Linked DNA regions of Homo sapiens: regions 1 and 3 are each linked to region 2. Evidence: fine-mapped expression QTL. A gene starts in region 2. Each other region holds a variant in brackets. All regions are shown on one strand. Distances are from middle to middle. Region 1 has its middle 26 kb from the start of NANOGP8. Region 2 holds the start of ZNF770 (zinc finger protein 770). Region 3 has its middle 44 kb from the start of ZNF770.

What was found. PIP is the estimated chance that this variant, and not a neighbour inherited with it, causes the effect.
Region 1: its variant is fine-mapped to the expression of ZNF770 in nasal epithelium (TOPMed, PIP above 0.99).
Region 3: its variant is fine-mapped to the expression of ZNF770 in whole blood (TOPMed, PIP 0.96).

What each region holds. Positions count from the first base shown.
Region 1 is chr15:35,057,501-35,061,742 of GRCh38, reverse strand. No RefSeq gene overlaps it. Among named protein-coding and RNA genes, the nearest start is that of NANOGP8, 26 kb to the left of the region's middle. The variant C/A (reference allele first, on the strand shown) is at 1,883.
Region 2 is chr15:34,986,518-34,990,759 of GRCh38, reverse strand. ZNF770 (zinc finger protein 770) reads left to right here and starts at 2,473. Exons shown (of 3, transcript NM_014106.4): 1 at 2,473-2,644; 2 at 3,087-3,203. It overlaps LOC105370764 (a long non-coding RNA gene), which reads right to left and starts at 2,402. Exons shown (of 5, transcript NR_188212.1): 1 at 2,276-2,402; 2 at 950-1,075. RefSeq lists enhancers at 2,289-2,378, 3,785-3,834, 3,915-3,974.
Region 3 is chr15:35,030,135-35,034,376 of GRCh38, reverse strand. No RefSeq gene overlaps it. Among named protein-coding and RNA genes, the nearest start is that of ZNF770, 44 kb to the right of the region's middle. The variant G/A (reference allele first, on the strand shown) is at 2,541.

The sequences.
Region 1 (4,242 bases), 71 kb before region 2:
TGGAGAGTGGGGAGCTGCTGATTGGTCAGGTCAGAGATGAAATCACAGCGAGTTGAAACTGTCCTCCTGCGCTGAGTCAGTTCCTGGGTGGGGGCCACAAGACAGGATGAGCCAGTTTATCCGTCTGGGTGGTGCCAGCTGATCCGTCAAGTGTAGGGTCTGCAAAGTATGTTAAGCACTGATCTTAGGTTTTACAATAGTGATGTTATCCCCAGGAACAATTTGAGGAGGTTCAGAATCTCCAGCTGCGTGACTCCTAAACCATAATTTCTAATCCTGTAGCTAATTTGCTAGTTCTAAAAAAGCAGTCTCGTCCCCAGGCAGGAAGGGGGTTTGTTTTGCGAAAGGTCTGTTATTGTCTTTGTTTGAAAGCTAAACTGTAAACTAAATTTCTTCCAAAGTTAGTTGGGCCCACGCCCAGGAATGAACAAAGACAGCTTGGAGGTTAGAAGCAAGATGGAGTCAGTTAGATCAGTCATAATTTTCTCATTTATAATTTTTGCAAAGGCGGTTTCAGTAACATCCTTGGACTGGGACTTGAAAGACACACTCGGCCGGGTGCGGTGGCTCATGCCTGTAATCGCAGCGCTTTGGGAGGCCAAGGTGGGCAGATCATGAGGTCAAGAGTTCGAGGCCAGCCTGGCCAACATGGTGAAACCCCGTCTCTACTAAGAATACAAAAATTAGCCAGGCGTGGTGACATGTGCCTGTAGTCTCAGCTACTCGGGAGGCTGAGGCAGGAGAATCGCTTGAACCCGGGGGCAGAGGTTGCAGTGAGTCGAGATCATGCCACTGCACTCCAACCTGGGTGACAGAACAAGACTCCGTCTGGAGAAAAAAAAAAAAAAAACAGAAAGACACACTCATTGATTTTCAGGCAGAAGCATTGGCACTGGAATCATTCTGGTAGGTGGCTACATGTCCTCTTTGCAAATATTCAAGAAATGAGATTCCACATTCTTTCAGCAAACTCTGACAATGTTAAACAAAAATAACCACAAAAGTGGTCATTAGCTGAGCTGAGAGGACGCTTCTAGCCATCAGATTCCTTCTTTTTGTATTCTCCTTCTTTTTGTTACCTTTTTCCTGAATTAATCACTGCATTTCTATGCTTAGATAAGGGCAATGAGGTGTAGTAGAAAGGACAAGGTGTCTGGGGAAGGTCAAAGTCATTTTAAGATTTCAAGGAACAGAATCTACTCAAGCCAGATCAGTGTTCTCAGCTGTGGTCTGAGTTCCTGGTGATTTCCATCCGGTGGGCCTGGGAGAGGGTCCAGGCATCATCTGTAGCTTTTTTTTTTTTTTAATTTTTTAATTTTTTTGAGACAGGGTGTCCCTCTGTGCCCCAGGCAGGAGTGCAGTGGTGTGATCTTGGCTCACTGCAGCATCCACCTCCCTGGCTCAAGCAATCCTCCCGCTTCAGCCTCCCAAGTAACTGGATGTACAAGGATACACCACCACACCCAGCTAATTTTTGTATTTTTTGTAGAGACAGGGTTTGGCCATGTTGCCTAGGCTGGTCTCTGACTCCTGAGCTCAAGCAATCTGCCTGCCTTGGCCTCCCAGAGTGCTGGGATTATAGGCGTGAGCCACTGCACCTGGCCTATCTGTAGCTTTAAATGTTGCACACACACCTGTCCCTCAGTGGCTCCTGGTCTCTCCTTCTCTCTGCCTGTGCTTCATTCCTGCCATAGAGAGCTGATTCCTTGGCTACTATACCATCATGCCTGTGGCTCTGGTTTGTCAGGGCACCAATTCTGGGCCCCAGTCTGCAGAACATTTCAGAACTGCCTCTCAGTTCAAATTTCAGAGCAAATATGCCTGCTCACAGCACAGCAAATACATTGCTTCTTCTCTGATCTTTGTTCAAATATTGGCCCAC[C/A]CCCATTTAGAATACATGACTTTGACCATGATACTTGAACTCTGAGTTCTTGTGTAAAACAGAAATACAAGCCGGGCGCGGTGGCTCACGCCTGTAATCCCAGCACTTTGGGAGGCCAAGGCGGGCGGATCATGAGGTCAGGAGATTGAGACCATCCTGGCTAACAAGGTGAAACTACTAAAATACAAAAAATACCATCTCTACTAAAAATACAAAAAATTAGCCAGGCGTGGTGGCGGGCGCCTGTAGTCCCAGCTACTCGGGAGGCTAAGGCAGGAGAATGGCGTGAACCTGGGAGGCGGAGCTTGCAGTGAGCCAAGATCATGCCACCGCACTCCAGCCTGGGGGACAGAGTGAGACTCCGTCTCAAAAAACAAACAAACAAAAACAAACAGAAATACAAATTTCCACTTCACTGGGCTACTGAAGGATTAAATGCAAATATATATATATATATAAAATAACTATCACAATGCCTGGCACCTACCAGTCAGTTTCTATAGCCTTTCAAACAAAGTGGCAAGGCTAAGAGCCCTATGTGCTGTTCGTCTCTTGCACTGACAACCCCACCTCTGAAAAGTCTGCACAGACAGCCTCAGTGCAGTCAAATAAGGCTTGTTGCTTTTCCTTTTCCTCATATTTGCCAAGAGCCATTTTCATAACTCTTTAGTACAGAAATAAGAAGGAAAACTGCTGAAACTCGAAGTGGTTTGACTTACTTTTGTTAGTCTCTAGTTGAGAAGAGAATAAGACTAAAGACCAAAATGAAATTTTTGCTTTGGGCGTGTGGGCTTAATTCATCTGTGCTATCACTCTCGTGGCCCTGAGAAATAGGGGCTGCTCTAAGTAGGCACATGGTAACCACCTACTGATCTGTTTTTGTTAAAGTGTGTTCTGTATTTTCATTTGTACTTGTTTTAAATTTTGTGAGTCTTCTGGGAGTAGACAAAGATTAAACATGGGTAGCAGGTTTTCTTTCTTTCCCTTCTGTCTTCTGACGTGTTTCCTATTTCTTTGTTGGGTAGAATTAGCGTGTTTCCTTTGTTTTTAATAGTTCCTTAAACTTTCAGTCCTACTCAGCCCTATTTTAAGCTACTTTGTCTTTTTGTTTTTCGCTTTTGGTCAGTGGAGGGACTCTATAGTTTGTCAGGATGTGCCTCTGTACGATGAAAACTAGAGAGAAAATTCTGACAAGTAGAGTTTTTTCTTTGATTAGCTTTCTCATGTGGAGTCAAGTCCTCTGCTTGCCTCACCAGGACAGGTGGTGAAGAAGCTTTTCAGATCTTTTTTTCTTCTAGGAAAGCTTGCACATCTGGAGCACAGCCCTCCTTTCTTATTTTTTGCTATGTTGTTCAAAGCTTTTTAAGAAAAAAAAACATAAACAGCAAAGAAAAAAATTGGTTTTTCATACCAAGTTGGCTTTTATTGGATGCCCTCAACTGCAGAGACATATTTAAAGGGCAGCTGGCCACCTTCTTTTGAGGTCAGACAGCTGACTCTTAATCATATTGACAATTTCTGGCTGGGAAGAAACATCTAAAAAACGTATTATGAAACATAAAAGTGGAGGCAGCTCTTTACCTTGCCACTTCCCCCTCCAGTCTCTACAGGAGTTCCTCCAAACAAAGCTCACGTTCCAAGAGTGGCAGGCCCACTTCTTCTATCTCATTCTCCTTCGCAGCCTTTGAACGACCTCTCTCATCCTCCCATCTCTCACAGCCTCACCTCTCTAGGTATTTGGAACCTTACGCTTTGCAGATGAGGAAAATTTAATGCCTCAATGATAACTTCAAATGGCATTTTAGCCCCTACAGAAATGAATAAATCATCAGATTCACTTTTCATTTGGGAACTGAAAGGGATTATAGCCCACAAGAACTTCAGGATCCTCATTTGGAACCCTGCTTTAGGAAGGCTTTTTTTCTTTTTTTTTTTTTTTTTTTTTGAGACGGAGTTTCTCTCTTGTTGCCCAGGCTGGAGTGCAATGGCACGATCTCGGCTCACTGCAACCTCTGCCTCCCAAGTTCAAGCAATTCTCCTGCCTCAGCCTCCCGAGTAGCTGGGATTACAGGCACCTACCACCATGCCCAGCTAATTTTTGTATTTTTAGTAAAGATGGGGTTTCACCATGCTGGCCAGGCTGGTCTTGAACTCCTTACCTCAGGTGATCTGCCCACCTCGGCCTCCCAAAGTGCTGGGATTACAGACGTGAGCCACCACACCTAGTCAGGAAGGCGTTTTATACAGACATGCCCTGCCCTTGCCCGTGACCTGCCCTTGCCCATGACCTTGAGGACATAGGGCTCTATTTCCACTAGTCAGAAGCCCCTAAGGCGAAGGCTTTCTGAGACAAGAAAAAG
Region 2 (4,242 bases):
TCTGCTCTTATCATATTGTATTAATACTTGTTTGTATGTTATTTTCCCCTCTGGGCTAGAAACTAATTTAAGGTTCAGGGCCTAACTGCTTCATCTTTATATAATTGGAAGTGAATATTTAGAGCTTGGTACCTGATATGTCTTTTCTTCTTTTTCTTTTTTTGAAACAGAGTCTCGCTCTGTCGCCCAGGCTAGAGTGCAGTGGCACATCTTTTCTATTTTTATTATTATTTATTTAAGACAGAGTCTTGCTCTGTCATCCAGGCTGGAGTGCAGTGGCATGAACACGGCTCACTACAGCCTTTAACTCCTGGGCTAGAGCAATCCTCCCACCTCAGCCTCCTGAGTAGCTGGGACTACAGGCACGTGCCACCACGCCCGGCTAATTTTTGTATTTTTAGTAGAGACAGGGTTTCACAATGTTGGCCAGGCTGGTCTCGAACTCCTGACCCATGATCTACCCGCCTCGGCCTCCCTAAGTGCTGGGATTACAGGTGTGAGCCACCGCGCCCAGCCTAGGTTAAATAACTTCTAAGGACACAACTAGTAAGCTGCAGCATTAAGATACTAATTCAAACGTATGTCATGCACCCCCTTTATTTTTCATTCTCATACTATCTTTTCTTCACCCTGCCACCTCTGCCCTACCATGTTCTGTCCTGCCCCCACATTTTTTATTTATTCATAGTCTACCCACTACTGCTAGTTCAAATTTCACATATTCAATGAAATCTTCCTTGATTACTCTTATTCATGTTAATTTCTCTTTTTTTTCCAGAAGGCTCCTGAGATAGCTCTCACGGTAAATGGGGGAGGTTATGACATGGGGCATGTGGCCTTGGAGAATAGCCTATTCAAGTCCTAACTGCTTTCACACTCAATATATATTCAGACTCTCCATGCAAAGGCCAATTTGTTTTGCAGGTAATGGATAAAGAACGAATCTCACCCTCCAGTGGTCCCCAATTTCAGGTAGTGTTTTCTCATGATATGGATGTATCTCCTAAGGCTGATGTGGCTGATGATGGATGCAATTGTTTGCATTATTTGGCTGAGTTAAGTTTCCCAGGAGTAGCTGCAGAATGGAGCAGATTTACAAGGGTTATCCGGACAAACAGCATCCCCACTTTGGGACTAGCATTTAGGACACCAGAAGTCTTTCCTTTCCCTTCTCCACCCCTGCTTCTGTTGGAAGCAGACTTCAACCCCTCCCAAATCTGACTCCTTCAGGGTTCCTACATGAGAAGCAAAAGCTCATTTCCTATTCGCCATTTCCTCATGCTAACACATCCAAAACAGAGAATTTTTGTTGGCTCAGCTGCTTTAATTTTTTTGGTAGAGGAAAATATATCAACATTAGAAACCATTGATTTTTGTTGCTGATGGTCCTTAGAAAGTAATGCAAAAAGTTGCTTAGAGTTAAAAAAGTATGCCTGATAATCTGCTTTCATTTCCTCCTTTCTCAAGGTGATACAATTACAATCAGAACCTGCAAAAAATCCACAGTAAATTCTTCTCTAATGCCTTTTGCACTTAAAATCTTTAGTAGATACCTTAGCATCTTATTCAGTAATAACATGCCAACTTAGTCTGTAACTAAATATTTGGTCTTCAATTGTGACTACATAAAATGCTGAAATATCTATAACTTGGGAAGCAGCAGTTATAAATGCAGGTCTGGTATTAGACAACCTGTGTTCAAATCGCACCTCTATCGTTTATTAACTGTGTGACATTAAGTTCCTTAACGTCTCTGATAGCCTCATTTTCCTCATCTTAAAATGGGATCCTATCATTTCATAAAGTTGTATTCTATATGAGTAATTAATAATGATAATAGTTCTTTGAAGGCCTACTACACTAGGAATTATGTTGAGCACTTCACACTCATTTTATCTAATTGTGAGAACAGGGCTTCGTACACTGTAGACAACCAAAACATACTGAATGATTGAGGCGGGGCTAATGAGGTCCGCAGCTGGCACGCCATTAGAGGAGTCGCGAGTGGAGCTCAGTCATGTCTGCCCACAAAGCGCCTGCGCTTGACCTCTACGTTATATTTACTTTGGCAATGTACAAAGTGGTGAGGACAGTCCTAGCCCGGAGGGCCCCTAACACATTGTCGTCTTCTTATCCTCGGCCCTCTGCGTTAGAGAGGGCTGCCCCGAATCGGCTTTGAACGCTGACTCGCCCTTTTCCAGTCGGCCCTTGAGCCCACTAGTCAGGGCTACAGCGTTTTCCTAACCGAGGTTCAGAGGTGAGATGGAAAATGTACCCGTCTTTATTCTGTTCTCTCCCCTGCAATGACAGGGTGAATGGCGGTGGGGTTGGGGGCACGTCTCCAGAGTCCCAGTCCGCTCGGGACCCGCGGACCGCCCGGAGGCGACAACGGCCCTGAAATTGGGGGGAGCTTGTTTCCAGCCGGACTGTGTCCCTGGGCGCGCCAGAGCGCCGCGCCTGCGCGCTCAGCCCGTTGCCGCGCCGGCCCTGCGGACGTGCGCGCGCTGCCTTCGCGGCACCTGGGCCTGAGGTGCGTGCCTCCCGGGCCCTCGCCAGCTCCAGATGCGTGAGGAGGACTTCAGAAACCCGACTGAGAAGTGGAGCGACCCCCAGGGAGGGTCGGACCTGCCTCAATACCGCCAAGGTGCCTGGGGACCCAAGAACGGGGGCTCCACAACCTCAGTTCCTGAGCTCCTTTTGCTTTCTCACTTCCCCACCTATTGAGTGCGTCTCACGCGGAGCAGAAATTTGAGAGGAAGGCGTAGAGGGATTTTTTTTTGTTGTTGCTGTGGGTTGTATCACATGTGGCGTTTTCATCCTGGCTGCAGCCAAAGCAGTTTTTACCCTTACCCTTCCTTTCCTGGCGTGGGATTTTGTGGTTTCTGGACTCGGCTCGACCATTACGTGCTTATTATTGGTTGTGGGCCTTTAGAACGAGGACTGTGTGTCAGTGTCCTTTGTCCAGTGTAGTCCACTGGGAGGGAGAGGTGAGGGTTCAAGGCCAAGAGAATGGGCCCGGGGCGAGTGGGGCAGAAGCAGCCGCCGGAGATTATTCCCCAACTGAAAGTTGTGTGTGTTTCTCTTAGGTCTTTCATTTCTTGTTCGCTTACTTTCGTGAAATCCTCACATCGTTTTAATGGTACTAGTCAAGACAAGAAAATCAACAGGCTTTCAGCCTTGAGGCAACATTGGATATTATTGAGGTCAGTTTTTACAGTTTTTACAGTCTTCACGTAGAGTATCTTGTTCTTGTCAGGATAAATTCTGGATTGAACCACTGAGCAGATCTACTATTCTTTTATTTCAGTTTAAGATAAGAAAAATTACAGTCTTTTTTATTTTTATGTTATCAACAAAAATCGGTTGAAATGGGATTTGGAGCTCCATGAGTGCGTGAGGTGAGGATCCCTAACCTGACTCTCATAAACAGGAGATAGGATCACCACTTGCCACTAATGGTTCTAACAATCTAGGGCTCCCAGTAAGTGCTTTTCCACGTGGTGGGAGGCAAGTGACAACAGTTATCCAATCTTAGTGCTAACAATGGATGATTAACCGTAGCTCCTTTTTGGTACAGGAGCTGTAGGTAGCCAATCCCTGTTTTAATCAGAGGTAGTTGTGGTGTGTGATTTTTTTCTTTTAGGCGTGTTCCACGAAAGCATTTATTAAAGGGAAGAAGAAACATACAAAAGGAATTGAATCTGGCTTTATACCAAAATCCTGTGTGATCATTCAGTCCTGACATTGGACAATTACCAGGCTTTGCCTGACTGGCCTCAAGGGCCAAGCTGTCCTCCCACACCATACTCGATATGGGCCGGTGCATTGCAGTTTTCTGGAGGGGGTTGCAGTCAAGGACTTGCCCTGCCCCTCCTGCTAGATATGCAAATCCCATAACTTCTTTCCTAGCCTGGGTACCTCCATTTGGAGGCCCTCCTAGGAAGGACCGTGGCTAAGACACTTTTCTCCATTTTTGACCCAGCTTCTTTCACTCCTAGACCTTCCCCTCCCTTTCCTATTCTGAAGTTCCATAAGAGGCAGGAGATTTTTGTTAGGGGCTCCTTTCAGTGAGAGGATTACCTCATATGCACTGCATCAACTGACCCTCACCCAGTGTCCTTGTATTTAGTAGACCACTGGGGAGCCAGTGCCTCTTTTTACCACTTGCTTGCACTGTCACAGTAAGTGAATAAAGGCTTGATTACTTTTGGTTTGACTCATTGTCCTGATTGACTACCTTGG
Region 3 (4,242 bases), 44 kb before region 2:
CAGAGATTCTACTGTTAGTACAGACAGAGGAAAACAAATTATTTTTTGTCAGTGGATCTGCCTCTTTCCAATTTTTGCAGGAGAATTTCTTTGCAGGTTATTCAGGAACAAATTAGGTATTTGGTCAATGCAAAACTGAATCTTTTTCTTTTTTTTTTTTTTTTTTTTTTTGAGACAGAGTCTTGCTCTGTTGCCCAGGCTGGAGTGTGCAGTGGCACGATCTCAGCTCACTGCAAGCTCTGCCTCTCGGGTTCACACCATTCTCCTGCCTCAGCCTCCCAAGTAGCTGAGACTACATGTGCCCACCACCACACCTGGCTAATTTTTTGTGTTTTTAGTAGAGACGGGGTTTCACCATGTTAGCCAGGATGGTCTCCATCTCCTGACCTTGTGATCCACCCACCTTGGCCTCCCAAAGTGCTGGGATTACAGGCGTGAGCCACCGCGCCCAGCCCAAAACTGTATCTGTCCGTGAATTATACATATATATATTTTAAAGAATGAGTCAGTAAGGGAGTGGCTTTTTTCTGCACCCAGGAAAATGTGTCCATCTTCTTGTGATTAACATGCGGCCGAGTGGAATTGCCTAGAGTGTTTCATTAGCAACACATACAGTAATGTTTCAACACCACAGGGCTAATTGCCTGTCTAATTCAACTGCTTCAGGGAAATCTTGTTTTCTTCCTAAGCAAACCTGAAGATGAATAATAAAAATATTAATATTAATTTCTAAAATTAAAAATATCTATTTATTGACATTAGGGTAATGATTGTCTGATAGCCATAACTTCTTCCATACCTCTCAGTAAATGCCAAATCTTACCTCAGTAGCCTGTTTTTTTCAAATGTTCCTCTAATAAGGAATAGACTCACACTAAATCTTTTTTTTTTTTTTTTTTTTTTGCGATGGAATTTCGCTCTTGTTGCCCAGGCTGGAGTGCAATGGCAAGATCTTGGCTTGCTGCAACCTCTGCCTCCTGGGTTCAAACGATTCTCCTGCCTCAGCCTCCCAAGTAACTGGGATTACAGGCATGCACCACCATGCCTGGCTAATTTTGTATTTTTAGTAGAGACAGGACTTCTCCATGTTGGTCAGGTTGGTCTCCAACTCCTGACCTCAAGTGATCTGCCCGCCTCCGCCTCCCAAAGTGCTGGGATTACAGAGGTCAGCCACCATGCCTGGCCTAAATCTCTTATCTAATAATAATAAAACCTAACTTTTGTTGAGCAATTAATATGTACTTTCCCAAACACATGTGTATAGTATCTCATCTAATCCTCACTACAACTCTGTGAGGTAGGTACTGTCAATAATTCATTCTACAGATGAGTAGATTGAGACACAAAGTGGCTAAATGACAGCTTGAGGTTACGTAACCAATAAAAAAATGGAGATGGAGAATATATTAAAAGCCAGATAGAGAGATGACTGTCACTTTGCAAGGAAGAAAAGCTTAGTCTTATAAAGCAAACAGAAAATGAAAGAGCTTCCTTTCTGCCATATGAAGACTATAATGAATTTTTTCCTGAAAAATTATTTTAGAAAGCAGGAGTTGCACCAAAACATTATATGTACTAAATTTGGAGAGGAGGGGAATTCCTTCAGGCAGTGACCTTTATTACTAAGGCTTGATTTGGAAGCCAACTTTTATAACTCAGTTAAAAACTGCTAAACCCAAGCACTTATATAAAAGAAATGCTGACATGACCTTAATTCCAGAGGTGCAAAGGGTATAATTGAATTTAAGAACAATGCATCTTACACATTAAGTCATTAAATAGATTGTAATAACCTGACACATTTGGTAAGTACTACATGAAAGTGATTTACAATGATATGCAAGTAAAATGAGCTTGCACTATTAGCTACTGTATTTTAGGTTGTGTTTGCCAAATATAACATTAAATTATAATACAGTCATTTAGAAAATGTTATGGTAGTATATCTAAAATGTTCCTGGACATGACGCCAACATAGAGAGAGGGGCTGTTAGAATCTACAGAATATTGCCAAATGCTTATGTATTCAGATAGCTTATATTTACAGTTTTAAGAATTAAACCTAATCAGAAATACACATCTTTTTGACCCAAATTTCTGGAGTTCCTCAGGTGACATGGTACGTCCGGTTGAAGAGTGTATATAAGGATGCCAAGTAAATGCCAAAACTGGAACATTCTTCCACACAGTTATATACTTGGCACTAGAGAAAAAACATCCAGATGTTTGGCATTATACAACTAAATGCCTAAATCCAAGTGAAATCATGAGTTAAACACACAGTCATGGAATTTAATCAATGTAGTCATCCAGTTGGGTTTAATTCTAGCTCAAACAAAATAAAACAAAGCCAAAATTCTTCTCTTCATTTCCTTTTTTTTTTTTTTTTTTTTTTTTTTTTTTGAGACAGAGTCTCACTTTTTCGCCCAGGCCGGAGTGCAGTGGCTCTATCTCGGCTCACTGAAAGCTCTGCCTCCCGGGTTCATGCCATTCTCCTGCCTCAGCCTCCCAAGTAGCTGGGATTACAGGCGCCTGCCACC[G/A]TGCCCGGCTAATTTTTTGTATTTTTAGTAGAGACGGGGTTTCACCACATTAGCCAGGATGGTCTTGATCTCCTGAACTCGTTCTTTTCATTTTCAAGGGCAGGGCTGAAGACCTGGATTTTCTATTTATATTGTCTCTGTATTTAATCTGACTGCTTATAGGATCAGTAGTGAAGTGAAATGCACTAATCATTTCAGTGCAACAGAAAATCCACTAGTGGAAAATGCGTTAGCCCTCAGAATTCCAACACTTATTTTGACTGGACCTCCTGCTTGTTTTATTTCCCTATGTAAATGCTAATATAGCAAATGCGAGTTAATACATAAATAAGAATACATCTAACAGCTTTTCCAGGTAAGAGCTGGTCACAATAATTGCAAATATATTCAAATGTTTTATTTTAGGTTTATGTGTAATCAGTGAGCTATGGATGTGAATATGTGCATATATGTTAAAACATAGATAACTCAGTGACCTAAAAATTGCAAATTTCAAAAAAATCACTGCATAGTAAAATAGATTTTTAAAAATCAAGGGCTTAAATTGAATATGTGACTCAATTAGTGTAGTAGATCATGGCAAAATGGCTCCTCTTTTTCCTACTCCTTACAATGTGTATATGCAGCTCTTCCCATCAAGATGTGAAATTCATTAGTCCTCATGTCCACCCCTTGAATCAGGCTGTCTTGTAGATTGCTTTGGTCACTACAATGTGGGGGACATGATGGGATCCCATTCATAGCCAAGGCCTCAAGAGGTGTTATACGCACTCTCTCACTTCCTTCTCTTCCTTTGCCATGAGAACAGCTCTGGGCTACCTGCTAAAGAATGAGAGACCACATGAAAGAGGGCCAAATCATCCCAGCTGGGGCCATCCTAGACCAGCCAGCACCAGCCCACCCCCCGAGCTGATCACAGAAACATAAGCAAGACCAACTAAGTATATCTGAGCCTGATGCAGACCAGTGAACTCATCTGGCTGACTTGTAGGCTTATAAGAGAGAAATAATAAATGGTTGCTTTAAGTCAATAAGTTTAGAGGGTAGTTTCTTATGCCACAGTAGATTACTGATACAATTAGTGTCAGACAATATTTTTATAGCAAAATAATGAAAATATCACAGTTATCTCTAAATATTAATGATCCTTGAATTTACATACATTTAATATTTTGTAATGTACTGTCACAGACTTGGCCTGTAGGCAAGACAGATGTGATTATCCTCATTTTAAAGATGAGATAGGCCGGGCGCAGTGGCTCACGCCTGTAATCCCAGCACTTTGGGAGGTCGAGGCGGGTGGATCACGAGGTCAAGAGATCGAGACCATCCTGGCCAACATGGTGAAACCCCGTCTCTATTAAAAATACAAAAATTAGCTTGGCGTGGTGCCGCGCACCTGTAGTCCCAGCTACTCCGGAGGCTGAGGCAGGAGAATCGCTTGAATCCTGGAGGTGGAGCTTGCAGTGAGCTGAGATCGCGCCACTGCACTCCAGCCTGGCAACAGAGCAAGACTCCGTCTCAAAAAAAAAAAAAGAAAGAAAAGAAAAAAAATCTGCATCCTGGCCGGACGCAGTGGCTCACGCCTGTGATCCCAGCACTTTGGGAGGCTGAGGCGGGCGGATTACGAGATCAGGAGTTCAAGACCAGCCTGGCCAACATGGTGAAACCCCATCTCTCCTAAAAACACAAAAATTAGCCA